Linked DNA regions of Homo sapiens. The protein of the gene in region 2 interacts with the protein of the main gene of each other region in a biochemical or structural test. Each region holds a gene or a part of one and is shown on either strand. Other genes may lie near its edges.

Evidence for each region.
Region 1: the proteins of CYLD (region 2) and TRAIP interact in far-western blotting, tested with the Homo sapiens proteins (one study listed by BioGRID).

The regions. Positions count from the first base shown.
Region 1 is NC_000003.12:49,853,565-49,861,126, reverse strand, and holds the start of TRAIP (E3 ubiquitin-protein ligase TRAIP), read left to right. Parts: upstream 1-4,562; 5' UTR 4,563-4,673; coding exon 4,674-4,771; intron 4,772-7,562. Other genes in the region: CAMKV (caM kinase-like vesicle-associated protein), read left to right, coding at 109-184, 275-411, 578-656, 869-956, 1,246-1,809. UniProt on the Homo sapiens protein: E3 ubiquitin ligase required to protect genome stability in response to replication stress.
Region 2 is NC_000016.10:50,773,074-50,780,151, forward strand, and holds part of CYLD (ubiquitin carboxyl-terminal hydrolase CYLD), read left to right. Parts: intron 1-2,092; coding exon 2,093-2,101; intron 2,102-3,105; coding exon 3,106-3,204; intron 3,205-4,751; coding exon 4,752-4,868; intron 4,869-6,591; coding exon 6,592-6,971; intron 6,972-7,078. UniProt on the Homo sapiens protein: Deubiquitinase that specifically cleaves 'Lys-63'- and linear 'Met-1'-linked polyubiquitin chains and is involved in NF-kappa-B activation and TNF-alpha-induced necroptosis.

The sequences.
Region 1 (7,562 bases), on a different chromosome or scaffold from region 2:
AGCTGCTCTGGGCAGGGGGAAAATGTGCTCATCTCAGGAAGCTGGTGTGGATGGTACTGGACCTGGCTAGGCCTGATACTGACCAGCAGATGGGCGCTGTGTTTGTAGCCCCAGAGGTGGTAGGCCGGCAGCGGTATGGACGCCCTGTGGACTGCTGGGCCATTGGAGTCATCATGTACATCCTGTGAGTGGACAGATGGACAAGCAGGCTTGCAGTCAGATGGGGTGGGGGCATGTGTCTGTGGCCTTTCTGTGTGACCCTTCCCCCATGCAGGCTTTCAGGCAATCCACCTTTCTATGAGGAGGTGGAAGAAGATGATTATGAGAACCATGATAAGAATCTCTTCCGCAAGATCCTGGCTGGTGACTATGAGTTTGACTCTCCATATTGGGATGATATTTCGCAGGCAGGTGAGGAGGTGCCTGCCCAGCACTTGGTAGAACGCAAGGGAGTGGGGAGGGTGTCCTGCTCTCATCTTCCTCTGTGGTATTCTGCTTCTGTCCCCCAGCCCATTTATCACCTCTAGACATTGAGATGGGGTGCCCATGACTATCCCCTTCTTGGTTTTGTCCACAGCCAAAGACCTGGTCACAAGGCTGATGGAGGTGGAGCAAGACCAGCGGATCACTGCAGAAGAGGCCATCTCCCATGAGTGGTGAGCAGGGTCCAGGGGAGGGTGGGAGAGGCCAGGGTCCCCCTCACACCCAGCAGCCCCATCTTTGAGGCCTGGAAGGGGTGCAGGTACCTAGAGCTCAGGGCAGCCCAGAGGCTCTGCCTGGTAGTCCCTGGATGCCACATAGAAGGGCTGAGCAGAGTCTCCACAAAGGCTCATTCTCTCAGATCCAGACACACTTGCACCCTTTCCAGGATTTCTGGCAATGCTGCTTCTGATAAGAACATCAAGGATGGTGTCTGTGCCCAGATTGAAAAGAACTTTGCCAGGGCCAAGTGGAAGGTAAGGCTTGGATAACTCCCTTCTTGGCTCTATCCCAAGTATTGCTTCTGGCACTCAGTTTCTTGCCTGCATCACACCCCTGCAGCCACACACAAGCTTTTCTCAGGCCATCAGGTGTGGGTGTAGCCACTGTGATTACCTTAAGTAGGAGTGCTGAGCAGCTGAGTACTTGGCCCTGGGGTGGATGGAGGTGGCCGGGGGTACTATGGAAGGAGTTTGGTTTGGTCACTGCCAAGCAATGGATCCAGCAAGCCTCACCCTTAGCCTTTCTCCACTGTGCTCCTTTCAGAAGGCTGTCCGAGTGACCACCCTCATGAAACGGCTCCGGGCACCAGAGCAGTCCAGCACGGCTGCAGCCCAGTCGGCCTCAGCCACAGACACTGCCACCCCCGGGGCTGCAGGTGGGGCCACAGCTGCAGCTGCGAGTGGAGCTACCTCAGCCCCTGAGGGTGATGCTGCTCGTGCTGCAAAGAGTGATAATGTGGCCCCCGCAGACCGTAGTGCCACCCCAGCCACAGATGGAAGTGCCACCCCAGCCACTGATGGCAGTGTCACCCCAGCCACCGATGGAAGCATCACTCCAGCCACTGATGGGAGTGTCACCCCAGCCACTGACAGGAGCGCTACTCCAGCCACTGATGGGAGAGCCACACCAGCCACAGAAGAGAGCACTGTGCCCACCACCCAAAGCAGTGCCATGCTGGCCACCAAGGCAGCTGCCACCCCTGAGCCGGCTATGGCCCAGCCGGACAGCACAGCCCCAGAGGGCGCCACAGGCCAGGCTCCACCCTCTAGTAAAGGGGAAGAGGCTGCTGGTTATGCCCAGGAGTCTCAAAGGGAGGAGGCCAGCTGAGTAGGCAGCCTGGTGAGGGGGGGCAGGGGATGGGCAGGAGGGTGGGAGAGTGGATGAGGGGCTTCTCACTGTACATAGAGTCACTGGCATGATGCCCTCGCTCCCCCATGCCCCCACATCCCAGTGGGGCATAACTAGGGGTCACGGGAGAGCAGTCTCGTCTCCTGTGTGTATGTGTGTGAGTGGTGGGCAGGCCAGTGGCAGGGCCGGCCCCAGCCCCTGCATGGATTCCTTGTGGCTTTTCTGTCTTTTGCTAGCTTCACCAGTTTCTGTTCCTTGTGGGATGCTGCTCTAGGGATACTCAGGGGGCTCCTGCTCTCCTTCCCCTTCCCTTCTTGCCTCACCATTCCCCTAGGCAGGCCCTGCAGGTCCCACACTCTCCCAGGCCCTAAACTTGGGCGGCCTTGCCCTGAGAGCTGGTCCTCCAGCGAGGCCCTGTCAGCGGTCTTAGGCTCCTGCACATGAAGGTGTGTGCCTGTGGTGTGTGGGCTGCTCTAGGAGCAGATACAGGCTGGTATAGAGGATGCAGAAAGGTAGGGCAGTATGTTTAAGTCCAGACTTGGCACATGGCTAGGGATACTGCTCACTAGCTGTGGAGGTCCTCAGGAGTGGAGAGAATGAGTAGGAGGGCAGAAGCTTCCATTTTTGTCCTTCCTAAGACCCTGTTATTTGTGTTATTTCCTGCCTTTCCGAGTCCTGCAGTGGGCTGCCCTGTACCCTGAACCTCATGAGCCTCTAAGGGAAAGGAGGAACAATTAGGACGTGGCAATGAGACCTGGCAGGGCAGAGTACAAGCCCAGCACCCAGTGTCCCAGCCTTACTGGGTCCTTACCCTGGGCCAAACAGGGAGGGCTGATACCTCCTTGCTCTTCCTAGATGCCCACCTCCTACAATCTCAGCCCACAAGTCCTCTCCACCCTAGGGGGCTTGCTGCATGGCAATAACTCATAATCTGATTTGGAGGTTTGCCCTTTACAGGGGCAGATTTTCTGCTCAGTTCAACAATGAAATGAAGAGGAACTCCCTCTTTCTACAGCTCACTTCTATCAGAGGCCCAGGTGCCTCAGAGCCACATTGAGTTGCTTTTTCTGGGATGAGGAAGTAGGGTTAAACTCCCCAGTTTCCTGAGGGAGGCTCCTGACAGGTGCCCTTTGTCAGACCCTACCACAGCCTGGATAGGCAGCCACATTGGTCCTCGCCCTTGCTCGGCACTCCGTGGTGGTCCTGCCCTTCTCCCTGCATGCCTGTGGGTCTGCTCTGGTGTGTGAAGGTCGGTGGGTTAACTGTGTGCCTACTGAACCTGGCAAATAAACATCACCCTGCAAAGCCTCTGGCCACCCTCTCGCCTTTGCTTCCTCTGTCCTACTGGGGAGGAGCCCCTGGAAGGCAGTGGGGAAGGGAGAGGCTGGGAGCAGGTTCACAAGTAGTGGCTGGGAGTAGTAGTGAACAGTGCCCTGTGGATTTCTTGGGCTGAGGGTGAAGATCATCCTCACCACAGTGTATTCCTCAATGGTGGTGGTGGTGGGGGTCCTCTGAACTCTAGAAATCCATGTGAGTAGTGGGTCTTGGGCTGCATTTGGACCAAGGAATACTCCCTGGGCTGAGAGCTCAAGTAAGGGCTGCTGTTTTTGACTCCTGTTGACCGAGGAGCCTTACTCTTGATTTAGGCATAGAGCTGGAATCTACCTGGGCCAGCCACCGCAAGGACAGACCCTGCTCATAGCCAAAGATAGCTTCCCTGAGCTAGGGAGAGGGTGTAGGGTGAGCAATGCACAAAGATTCTATGCTGCTCTGTGTTGATTCCTTCTTTCTGTGAACACCTGTGCTTTCCACCTATGCCCCAAATGAAATCTCACTCTGGGTCTATTTCAGCTGGAGCAGATCAGCTTTATATTATGGGACTATGCACAGGGTTTCTTCTGGGTAGAGGGAGTAACACTGCCACAGATACTAAGCCTAAAAACCCAAAAGTTGACTTACTCCAGCCCAGGTGGGCCTGGGTGAACTCACCAGGGATGCTGCTCTCTGGGAGGACCTCAAAGATAACCTCCTCAAAGATAACTTCTCTGATGTGGGAATAATAAAAAGGATTTGTTAGTCTCTAGTCTTTGAAGCATCTGGGCCTCCAAAATTCCAACCCTACTACAGTCTCAAGCATAACTGATCCTCCTGAGAGCTAAGAGCTAAAGTCAGGGTACTGGCCCTAGTGTCTCCAAACTCAAGGATAGTCATATCTTACTTGGATGAAGCCAAGGTTGGCCTGGGGTGACCTGAGGGACTGGGGCCTATGTGTCCATCTTTCTAGAATCGCCCGGAACTGAGGACTGAGAGGGTAGGGTATTGTGGTCTATGGGAACTACAGACCATAGCGCATGGTCCATCACTGTCCAGAGCCCAAGGGACCCATCGGGACCATTGTTCTATTCCCTTGCGGCTGCGGTTTTCTCTGCCTTGGCCCAGCCTGCCTCGCGCCAGCTCTGGCATGGGACCACAATGCGCTGCCTTGCCCTGGAAAAGGGTCCAGCTGGCAGCCTCGCTGCTCCCCGCCTTGATATAATGCTGCGCTCTCAAGTGGCAGGTCGAGTCTCCCCAGAGGACGCCTGAGAGCGACCGCGCTCCGCCCAGGATTCTCTACGGCCTCGGGGCCGCTAAGCCCCGCCCATAGTTCCGCCCATCCGAGAATTTGTCCAATCCAGGCGAAGTATTCACGCTCCGCCCAAAGTTTTGTGTTGTCACTTCCGGCCCGCTCCAGGAAGTCGTGCTGCGGAGCCAAATTTGAAGCAAGCGGAGGCGCGGGGGCGCGTCTACGAAGCCGGACCTGTAGCAGTTTCTTTGGCTGCCTGGGCCCCTTGAGTCCAGCCATCATGCCTATCCGTGCTCTGTGCACTATCTGCTCCGACTTCTTCGATCACTCCCGCGACGTGGCCGCCATCCACTGCGGCCACACCTTCCACTTGCAGTGGTGAGTGACTGCAGTGTTGGGGCCCGGTGTTTGCCCGGGTACCGCTTCAGGGCCTTGAGGTGTTGGGCCTCCAGGCGGTCCAACCCCGGAATCCAGACAAGTGATGAGAACCTTCCTCCTAGACGAGGCCCCACGGGAGCTTCCCAACCTGGGCAGAAGTGGGTCAGGACAGGCTTTCTGGTAGAGGTGATAGCTGAGCTAAGCCTGAGGGGGACTAAGATGGCTCAGTGAAGATAGATGCTTCCTTGATCACCTATACAAACAGATGTGATTTCAAAACCGTTAGCCTGGGCAAGGGTGAGCTTTCACCACATCAACAAGTCCTTTTATTTCTTCCAGATAGAAACCTGCTAGGCTTCTGGCTACCCAAGAGAGTTTGCTGTGCCTTACTTGATGGTTTGGAATTATTCTACCCAGAGTCATCTCACTGTCCAGACACCCCAATGTATTCGCCATGTCAGCAAACCCGTTTAACATGGGGAAGGCAAGGAGATGCTCCCCTATCCAGGGGTCCTGCTGACCGTGTAGGGCCATTCTGTTGAGTGTACAGCTAGTGGGGAAAGATTCCCCTAGCAGATGTGGACAGGCCGGTTTGGACCTCCTAGCAAAAGAGATAAGGCAGCGTTACCCCTGGGAATGGTGGGTGATAATAATCACAGGGTCTTGTGGGGCTAAAGGCCCTAGGAAGCAGAAAGGCAGGCATGACACTGATGGCTGCTGGCTTACTTGCAAAGCTTTGTTTAGGCCTGTGTTGCTGACAGCCTGAGCCCCATGCTGAGGGAGCCACTGCTGTTTGGTTAGACTAGAAATTAAGCTCGCCTCTAAGCGTACTCTATTTTCTGTTTGCCTACTCTATTTTCTTCTATCCTTTTACTTTATTTATTTATTTTTATTTTATTTTATTTTTGAGATGGAGTCTCGCTCCTGTCGTGTAGGCTGGAGTGCAGTGGCGTGATCTCGGCTCACTGCAACCTCCACCTCCTGAGTTCAAGTGATTCTCCTTCCTCAGCCTCCCAAGTAGCTGACATTACAGGCGTGCGCCACCACGCCCAGCTAATTTTTGTGTTTTTCATAGACAGGGTTTCTCCATGTTGGCCAGGCTGGTCTCGAACTCCTGACTTCAGGTGATCCACCCACCTTGGCCTCTCAAAGTGCTAGGGCCTATCCTTTTACTTTAAACTTTTCTGTGTCCTTGTGTTTTACATGTATCCCTTGAAACAGCATTTATTTCTTTTTTTGTATATTAAAAAGTACTTTAGCTTACTGCAAAGATCTTTATTTTATTTTATTTTGAGACAGGGTCTCACTCTGTTACACAGGCTGCAGTGCAGTGGTGCCATCTCGGCTCACTGCAGCCTCTACCTCCTGGGCTAAGGTGATTCTCCCATCTTAGCCTCCCAAGTAGCTGGGACTACAGGCGCCTGCCACCATGCTTGACTATTTTTTTTTTTTTGTATTTTTAGTAGAGATGGGGTCTTGCTATGTTGCCCAGGCTGGTCTTGAACCCCTGGACTCAAGTAATCCACCCACCTCTGCCTCCCAAAGTGCTAGGATTACAGGTGTGAACCACCGCACCCAGCCTTGGAAAACAACATTTAGTTGGACTTTTAAAAATCCAGTCTGATAATCTTTGTATTTAACTGGACCATTTAGTCTACTTAAAATTGTTGCAATTACTGATTAAATAAAGAGTAAACATATTGTCTTTAGTCGATTCTGTTTTGCCTTGCCTATTATATCTTATTGTCTCCTTTCTTGCCTTGGTAGGAATTGGTTAAATATTCTGTATTTCTCCATTTTTCCCTCAGTTAGTTGGGTCGTTATATACCCCATTTCCATTTATAAGTGGTTATCCTAGAAATTAAGGTATGTATCCTTAACTTACCAATTTCAAGGTTAATCAACACCTTTCTCATTTTCCCAGGCAACTCAAAGAGCTTAGAATACTAACATTCTTTTCCCACTTCTACGTTATTGTTGAATATTTTAATTGTGTGTATGTGTGGTATTTTTTTCGTTGGTGTTATTTTTGAGACAGAGTCCTGCTCTCTTGCCCAAGCTGGTCTGCAGTGGTACAATCTCTGCTCACTGCAGCCTTGACCTCCTGGACTCAAGCGATCCTCCTGCCTCAGCCTCACAACTAGCTGGGACTACAGGTGCATGTCACCATGCCCAGCTAATTTTTGTTTTTTGTAGAGACAGGATTTCGCCATGCTGCCCAGGCTGGTTTGAAACTCCTGTACTCAAGTGATCCACCCTCCTTGGCCTGCCAAAGTGCTGGGGTTTACAGGCATGAGCCACCACGACCGGCCAATTGTATGTTTTTAAGTAAAGTTTTTGTTTGGAATAATTTTTTTTTTTTTTTGAAACAGGATCGTGCTGTGTCGCCCAGGCTGGAGTTTATAATTGTTTCTTCTTGCAGGATTGAACTTTTTTTAAATGTTCTTCTTTGTCCTTCTTTGTCTCTTGTAACTTTAATTCAAAGTCTGTCTTGCCTAATTTTTTTTTTGAGATGGAGTCTCGTTCTGTGGCCCAGACTGGAGTGCAGTGGCGCAATCTTGGCTCACTGCAACCTCTGCCTCTTGGGTTCACGTGATTCTCCTACCTCAGCCTCCCGAGTAGCTGGGATTACAGGCACACACCACTGTGCCTGGCTAATTTTTTTTGTATTTTTAGTAGAGGCAGAGTTTCACTATGTTGGCCAGACTGGTCTCAAACTCCTGACCTCGTGATCCGCCCACCTCGGCCTCCCAAAGTGCTGGGATTACAGGCGTGAGCTACCGTGCCTGGC
Region 2 (7,078 bases):
TATTTTCTTCACAAGATTTCTGTGGATGTTAAATTCTCATTTGAGTCTGAATTATGCTCTTGTGGCTGCTGATGTTAAGCGGTACATTAATTAAACAATTTCTCTTAATTTACTGGGTCATTCAAATTCATAGACATTTCATTTGATTTGAACAATAACTTGTTCACTAGTTTATTGTTATGATTTCCTGCTCAAGATTCTCCAAGGGATTTTTCTTTTTCTGGTTAAATCAACAAGTGATGGATAAGCTGTGAATTTTATCATTTAAATGCAATCTTGCTGTGTATACATAATGGATACTTTTGGTTTGGTTTCTTTTGCTGAACACAATGTCCATGTTGCCCTGTTTATCAGTAGTTTGTTCCTTTTTTATTGCTATGTAGTATTCCATTGTATGAATAGACCATAATTTGTTTCTCTATTCTTCTGTAGAATAGCTTGTTTCCAGCTTTTGATTAGAATGAATAGGGCTGCTCTGTACATTTTTACTCATGCTGTTTGGTGGAATTATCTTCTATATCTTTTAATATCTTTAATCAGGTTTGTTTTAATCACACAAAATTGCCAGCTGAATTTATCTTACCTTGCTTTCCATCCCATATTTATCTTTTTCTGAGTTGGTAATCACTTATAATTCATTTAACTTTGAAAGCTTTGCTTCATGACCCAAGTAGTTTTGGGCCATGAACACAGTTGTGACAAAGTAATAAGAAATATTTGGTGTGTAATTGCTGGAGGGCAATTAGAGGTGGTTTGTGCCCCTTTGTCTGTATAGAATTCTGATGGAATGTCTTCTTCTTCAGAGCTGATATTTGACCCCCTCTCAGACAGCCTTTGACAGAAGGTAGCCACAGTTTCCAACTCCAGTGCCCCCCTGCTCACATTCCTAATCTTTGGAGCTCCTCCCTAGTGTCACCTGCAGAACTGTCACCACCGGCCATCCAGTTGGCTCTCCAGTCCTGCCAGGCTACCTTCAAAGCCTAACAAAGGGAAGAGCACTTGCTTCATTTGTTATAATGGTTACTAACTATATAATGGATCTATATCGTGGTATACATGTGAACATACTTTAAAAATGTTATATGCAGTTAATTACAGTTAATAGTGGGAGTTGTTTTTCTTTAGGAAATTTATATGCTATAATTTAGGAACTCTTCTCAGTGACTAAGATTTTCCTTCTGAAGTATCTGTCATGGGTGCTATTTAAAGATATCTGAATGACAACATCATAAAAGAACAGTGGTCTCCTCTTTCATCAAGGGATACTTCCAAGACCCCCAGTGGATACCTGAAACTATGGATAGTACTGAACCCTACGTATACTGTGTTTTTCCTCTACATTCATGCCTCTGATAAAGTTTAATTTATATATTAGGCACAATAAGATATTGAAAACAATAATCAGAGAAGAGACAATAATAACAATATGGCAACATCACTACTCGTGTACTTCAGGACTATTATTAAGTAAAATAAGGGTGACTTGAATGTAAGCACTGTGATACTGCAATAGTTGATCTGATGACTGAGGTGGCTACTAAGTGACTAACAAGGCAGGGAGTAGACACAGTGTGGAGATGCTGGACGGGGATGGGTTACGTCAGGGGTTATGGATTAGGATGGTGCAAGATTTCGTTATAATACTCAAAACAGCATGCAACTTAAAACTTACGAATTGTCTGTTTCTGCAATTTTTTATTTAATATTTTTGGACAGTGGTTGACTGTGGGTAACTGATACCGTGGAAGGTAAAAGTGTGGATAAGTGGGGACCACAGTATTAGTACATAGCTTTTCTCTTATTATATCACTTGATCGAAATCGTGGTTAATTGGTATAATTTTTGAATTAAAATATTTTCATATTCTATTGGATCATATTATGAGATGTTTAAGATATAGTTTAATAACACATCCCCCTCCTCTTTCAACCATGGAAAAAAGTTACCAAGTATTTACATATAATTCATTTAGTAAATTTCCTCTTTTTTTAAGAAAAGTCTTTTCCTTGTGTTTAAAATGTAAAAATTTTCCTATTTCTTTCTTTCTGTCCTCAAATCCACTGTGGGTGATATCGTTTTTGCTGACACACAGCTTTATCAGGTATGACTCCTAAGTGTCGTGTTGGACTCCACGGATGTATTGTTGAATTTTTCAAAGGAAGAACTTTTCACACTGCCTCTTCTACATTCCCTTGATCAGTATTTAGGAGTATTCTATGATCATTGCTGGGCTTTAAGGTCTAGAGTGGTCTTTGTATTCAAAACAAGTTTGCCACACTTATTACACCTATATTTCAGAAATAATTGTGAGTGTTTTCTTCAAATATATTATTGTTGTGTGTCTCTGGCTTTCTGTATTTTTAATCTATGCATAATTCTCTATGTTTTCCTCTTTTATATGTATAAGTGTTTGTATACACATCTGTGTTATTCTTAACATATATGTTTTTAAAAACAGATATATGTTCTTAACCAGAACTTTCTTTCCTAACCATGATACATATTCCTAACCAGGCTTTTTTCAAACTGTGTTCATGAAATAATATTAATCTGAGATGCTAAGCAAAGTGGCACAAAAATTTTTATCAATAAGTTTATTTTGTTTCTCCCTGAGCAGTTCACAATGCACATTAGCATATTAAAGGCTCTGGTTCCGTGCAGTAAAGAAATTGTTTATCTTTGTTTATCTCAGCATCTTCAAGAAATATTTGAGTTCGAAACACTTCATAATACACAGGGGTGTTCTAAGCCTGCTGATTTGGGAAATGCTGTAAAAAACCGAGTAAGATTTTCTTTGTAGTGTTTTAAGAGATCAAATAAAATTGACTACAAGTGATTAAATTTTCAAGAGGTTAAAGCATTTAGCTGAATTGTATTTTGAGAGGGTATTTTCTTATAGAAATTACATTTTGAAATACAGCATTGGTTTTTTCCCCCATAGTATTATCTTTTTCAATACTTTTGATGGCCTTTAAAAGGCATTTGTAAAACTAAAAATTCTGCCTTTTTGTGGAAAGAGGGTTTTTTTATTTTGTTACTGTCATTCCTTGTTTCTCTTCTATAAGAATTTGCCTTTATCTTTAAAAAACATGCTTACTGTTTCAGAGAGTGTGACGCAGGAAAGGAGGCCTCCCAAACTTGCCTTTATGTCAAGAGGTGTTGGGGACAAAGGTTCATCCAGTCATAATAAACCAAAGGCTACAGGTATGGATTAATAGCATATAACCTTTAGTAATTTGCATAATGCCTAACTTGCCATAGCATTAAAAAAGATTATAAGCTATTACTTCTGAACATGTATGTAGACTTTTTTTCTTTCAAACATTTTTAGTAGTGAAACTAAAGTTTGTATATAAATACTGTTGCTTAAGCCAAGTGTTCCCAGCCTTTTTTACCTCAGGAAGAGTTCCCCATAGGGTCTTGTGTGTTTTGCTGGTCTATAATCAAATGGTTTTTGGAACTCCTTACTTGGAATATTTGTATGTATAGTTTAGGATTGCAACTGTGTAAAATAATCCTATATGGATAATGTTATATAGGATAAAGTATACTAGAGGTTAATTAAATGGATTTTGCTAACTAGATTTGGTACAAATTAAATCCCAAACTGCTAAGCAAAAATTTCTTCTCTTTCCCAGAAGCTTCCTCACAATATGTGTGGAGCTTACAGCTCTTTTTTTTGTTAGCTTCCACATACTTCATAGATTTATAGAATAGTAGTTATACAAGCCAAAGAGCTCATTAAAAAGGCTCTGAGAATTTTTGTTAACTCAGATGCGAGTTAGGAAAAGAATATTTTTTCCTCAATTATTACAATTTTGGCTCATTTAAAAGGAAATTGTACTTTAAGAATTATTTTATGTGACATTGGGGCCTGGGAGACTTAGGATTAATTGCAGGATATATAGGTAACAGTCTTTTTTATGTTAACCTATAGATCTATATAGGATAGCTCAAACTTGCTACTCTCACTTAAATAGAAACAGACTAAAGATTTTCTTAAGCTATGGCATGTTAATTGTATTGTAGTAGATCTTAAAGTTATAAAATGTACAGCTACCTGCTTTAATTTGAAAAGGGAAATCAGCTTTTTTGTGGGTTCTGGAGAGCCCACTGCCCTCCACTGTGTGTGGTATGTCCTTGAATTAATACTGAGGCAGGGTAATGTCATGAAATGGCTGTGGCATAGCTACACTCGCCCTCTCACGTATAATAAATCCAATCTGTAAGAAATAATAGTGCTTGATTTTTTCAAAGACACAAGGAATTTGATGACCAAAAATTCCAAAATGTTTAAAACTTAACTATTTTTAAATGTAATTTGTGTATTGATTTATATATAGAATTTGAGGATTACCTTCTTTTAAAATAATAGGTTAAATTTGTGAACCAATGGGTCTATGAAATGAAGCTGGAGAATGGTGATTTTGACATTTAGAAATAAGCTGTGGTACATGGAACAATTTCTTAAAGCAGTTCATTTTTTTTAAAAATGAGTGGGCTTTTCTTTTAACTTACTCCTGTTTCCCTCCTATCTTGACTTTTGGGCTGAAAAATATTTTTAATATTGTCAAAATGGTTACCAAATTTTTAAAAGCTGAAGACAGTTAAAAAACATATTGTGTTTATATACATTTATTGGTTATGTAAACAGTTATTAACATCATATTCATAATAATTTCTCTTACTAAAAAAAAACTTTGATGCTATATTGACTTTATTTTTAAATGAAACTTTTCTTGTTCCTATAGGATCTACCTCAGACCCTGGAAATAGAAACAGATCTGAATTATTTTATACCTTAAATGGGTCTTCTGTTGACTCACAACCACAATCCAAATCAAAAAATACATGGTACATTGATGAAGGTAATCAGTAATTTTAGTGTTCTTTATAATGATCCTTTCTTTCTAACTCATCAGAGAAAAATGGTTTTTTATATCAATATTTGTAGTTTTTGGAAACAGAATAAGTAGACCGCTCTTTGTAATATTGCTGAACTAAAATATTGTACACAGTTTGAACCGTACTGCTGTTAAGATTATTAAAATGTTTAAGAAATGTATTAGTAATTTGTTCTTTTCCTTTAACTGCTGATCTATTTAGGGTGGAAGATTTCTGTCTGGTTCCTTCCTGACCTCTTTAAAGCACTCCCTTTTAAAAAATTTTATCTTCCCTTGGTCCTGGGACATCATTTTCACCTAGTTTATTCTCTTCTTTGTTCATTTGTTCAACAAATATTTATTGAGTGCTTATGATTGCCAGGCATTCTTTTAGGCATCAAGATGAAAATGGTGAGAAAAAATAGACATGGTTCATGCCCTTTGTGAGTTTGCAGTTGTTAAGTTGTTGAGATAGAAATTAGTCAAACAACCACAGACACAGTAGAGTTGCCTTGGTGGTGTGTGCAGTGAAGGTGCATGATGCTGTGAGAATACACCAAAGATGATTTTTCTCAGGGTCTTAGGGGTGTTTCTTTGGGGCAGTGACACATGCTTAGGTTTACCAGAGGAGTGACAGATGACAAAGTGAAAGGGGCTAGAACTTCCTCGGGAGAAGAAATAGCATAGGGAAAGTCCTCCTGGAAGAATGGAAGCTAGTGTTTGCCAGGGACTAGAACACAGACAGAGGCATGACATTCATGAGATGAGAATGGAAAGGCAAACAGGCCTGACTCTGTGGTCTCCCAGCCTTTAGAGTTTTGCCTGCCACATTTGTTTTTAAGGCACCTGGAGCTGATTTTCATGTAAAGTATGAGTAGGATTCCTGTTTAATTTTTTTTTAAAAATATGGATAACCAATTATCTCAACAGCATTTAGTAAGAAGTTCATTCTTTTGTCATTGATCTGCAATACCTGCCTGTCAGCTGTATTAGTCATTTTAAGAAAATAGCTTTTGGCTGTGGCTCTCTTTATCATGTGTTTGGTTTCTCTTAAATTACATTCTGTGTTTGTGTTTATTCTGGCTTTGAACTTCTTATTGTATGTTTGTTTTCTCTCTTCTGTTGTTTCTGTTCTTTAGTTTATTCTTCTCTACTTTTTTGAGGGTTATTCTGTTCTTTTAACTTCCCAAGTTGTATGCTGAGTTCATATTTAGCTTTTGTTTTTTTCTGAAATAAGCAATGAAGTCTATAAAATTCCCTTATAAGTATTAATTTAGCCATGTTTCACAAGGATTCTTTCTTTCTTTGTTACTTTTTCTCTCTTTTTTCTTTATTGTTAAAACGTATTATTTCTTTTTTGATCCATTAGATATATAGAAGCGTTTCTTAAGGTTTTCGGTATCTTTTTGTACTGCCTTCTCAATTAATTGTATTTTGGACAAAGACTATCACGTATACGATACCCGCTGATAATAGATTTTTTTGGTTTGAACAGTTGGGTGCCATTGACTGAGGTGCATAAATATGGAGGTGGAGAGAGGAGCGAGAACACTGTTGGAGATAATAACTTTGTGATGCCTATGAGAGTACTATTAATAGCAGGGAGGTCAGGTGGGCAGTTGGACTAGATCTGTATATAAATTTTTAGAAATGTAAGACAGAGTCAATATCCTTGAATACATTTCTGTAATTAGGAATAATTTTTTAGTTGCAGAAGACCCTGCAAAATCTCTTACAGAGATATCTACAGACTTTGACCGTTCTTCACCACCACTCCAGCCTCCTCCTGTGAACTCACTGACCACCGAGAACAGATTCCACTCTTTACCATTCAGTCTCACCAAGATGCCCAATACCAATGGAAGTATTGGCCACAGTCCACTTTCTCTGTCAGCCCAGTCTGTAATGGAAGAGCTAAACACTGCACCCGTCCAAGAGAGTCCACCCTTGGCCATGCCTCCTGGGAACTCACATGGTCTAGAAGTGGGCTCATTGGCTGAAGTTAAGGAGAACCCTCCTTTCTATGGGGTAATCCGTTGGATCGGTCAGCCACCAGGACTGAATGAAGTGCTCGCTGGACTGGAACTGGTAATTTAACTTGACCCAAAAATTTCAATTTTTTTCTCTGTGAGGTTTTGTGCAGATTTCGCCCTATTATATGCTTTTTGACAAACTGTTATATTTGTCAGAAAAGC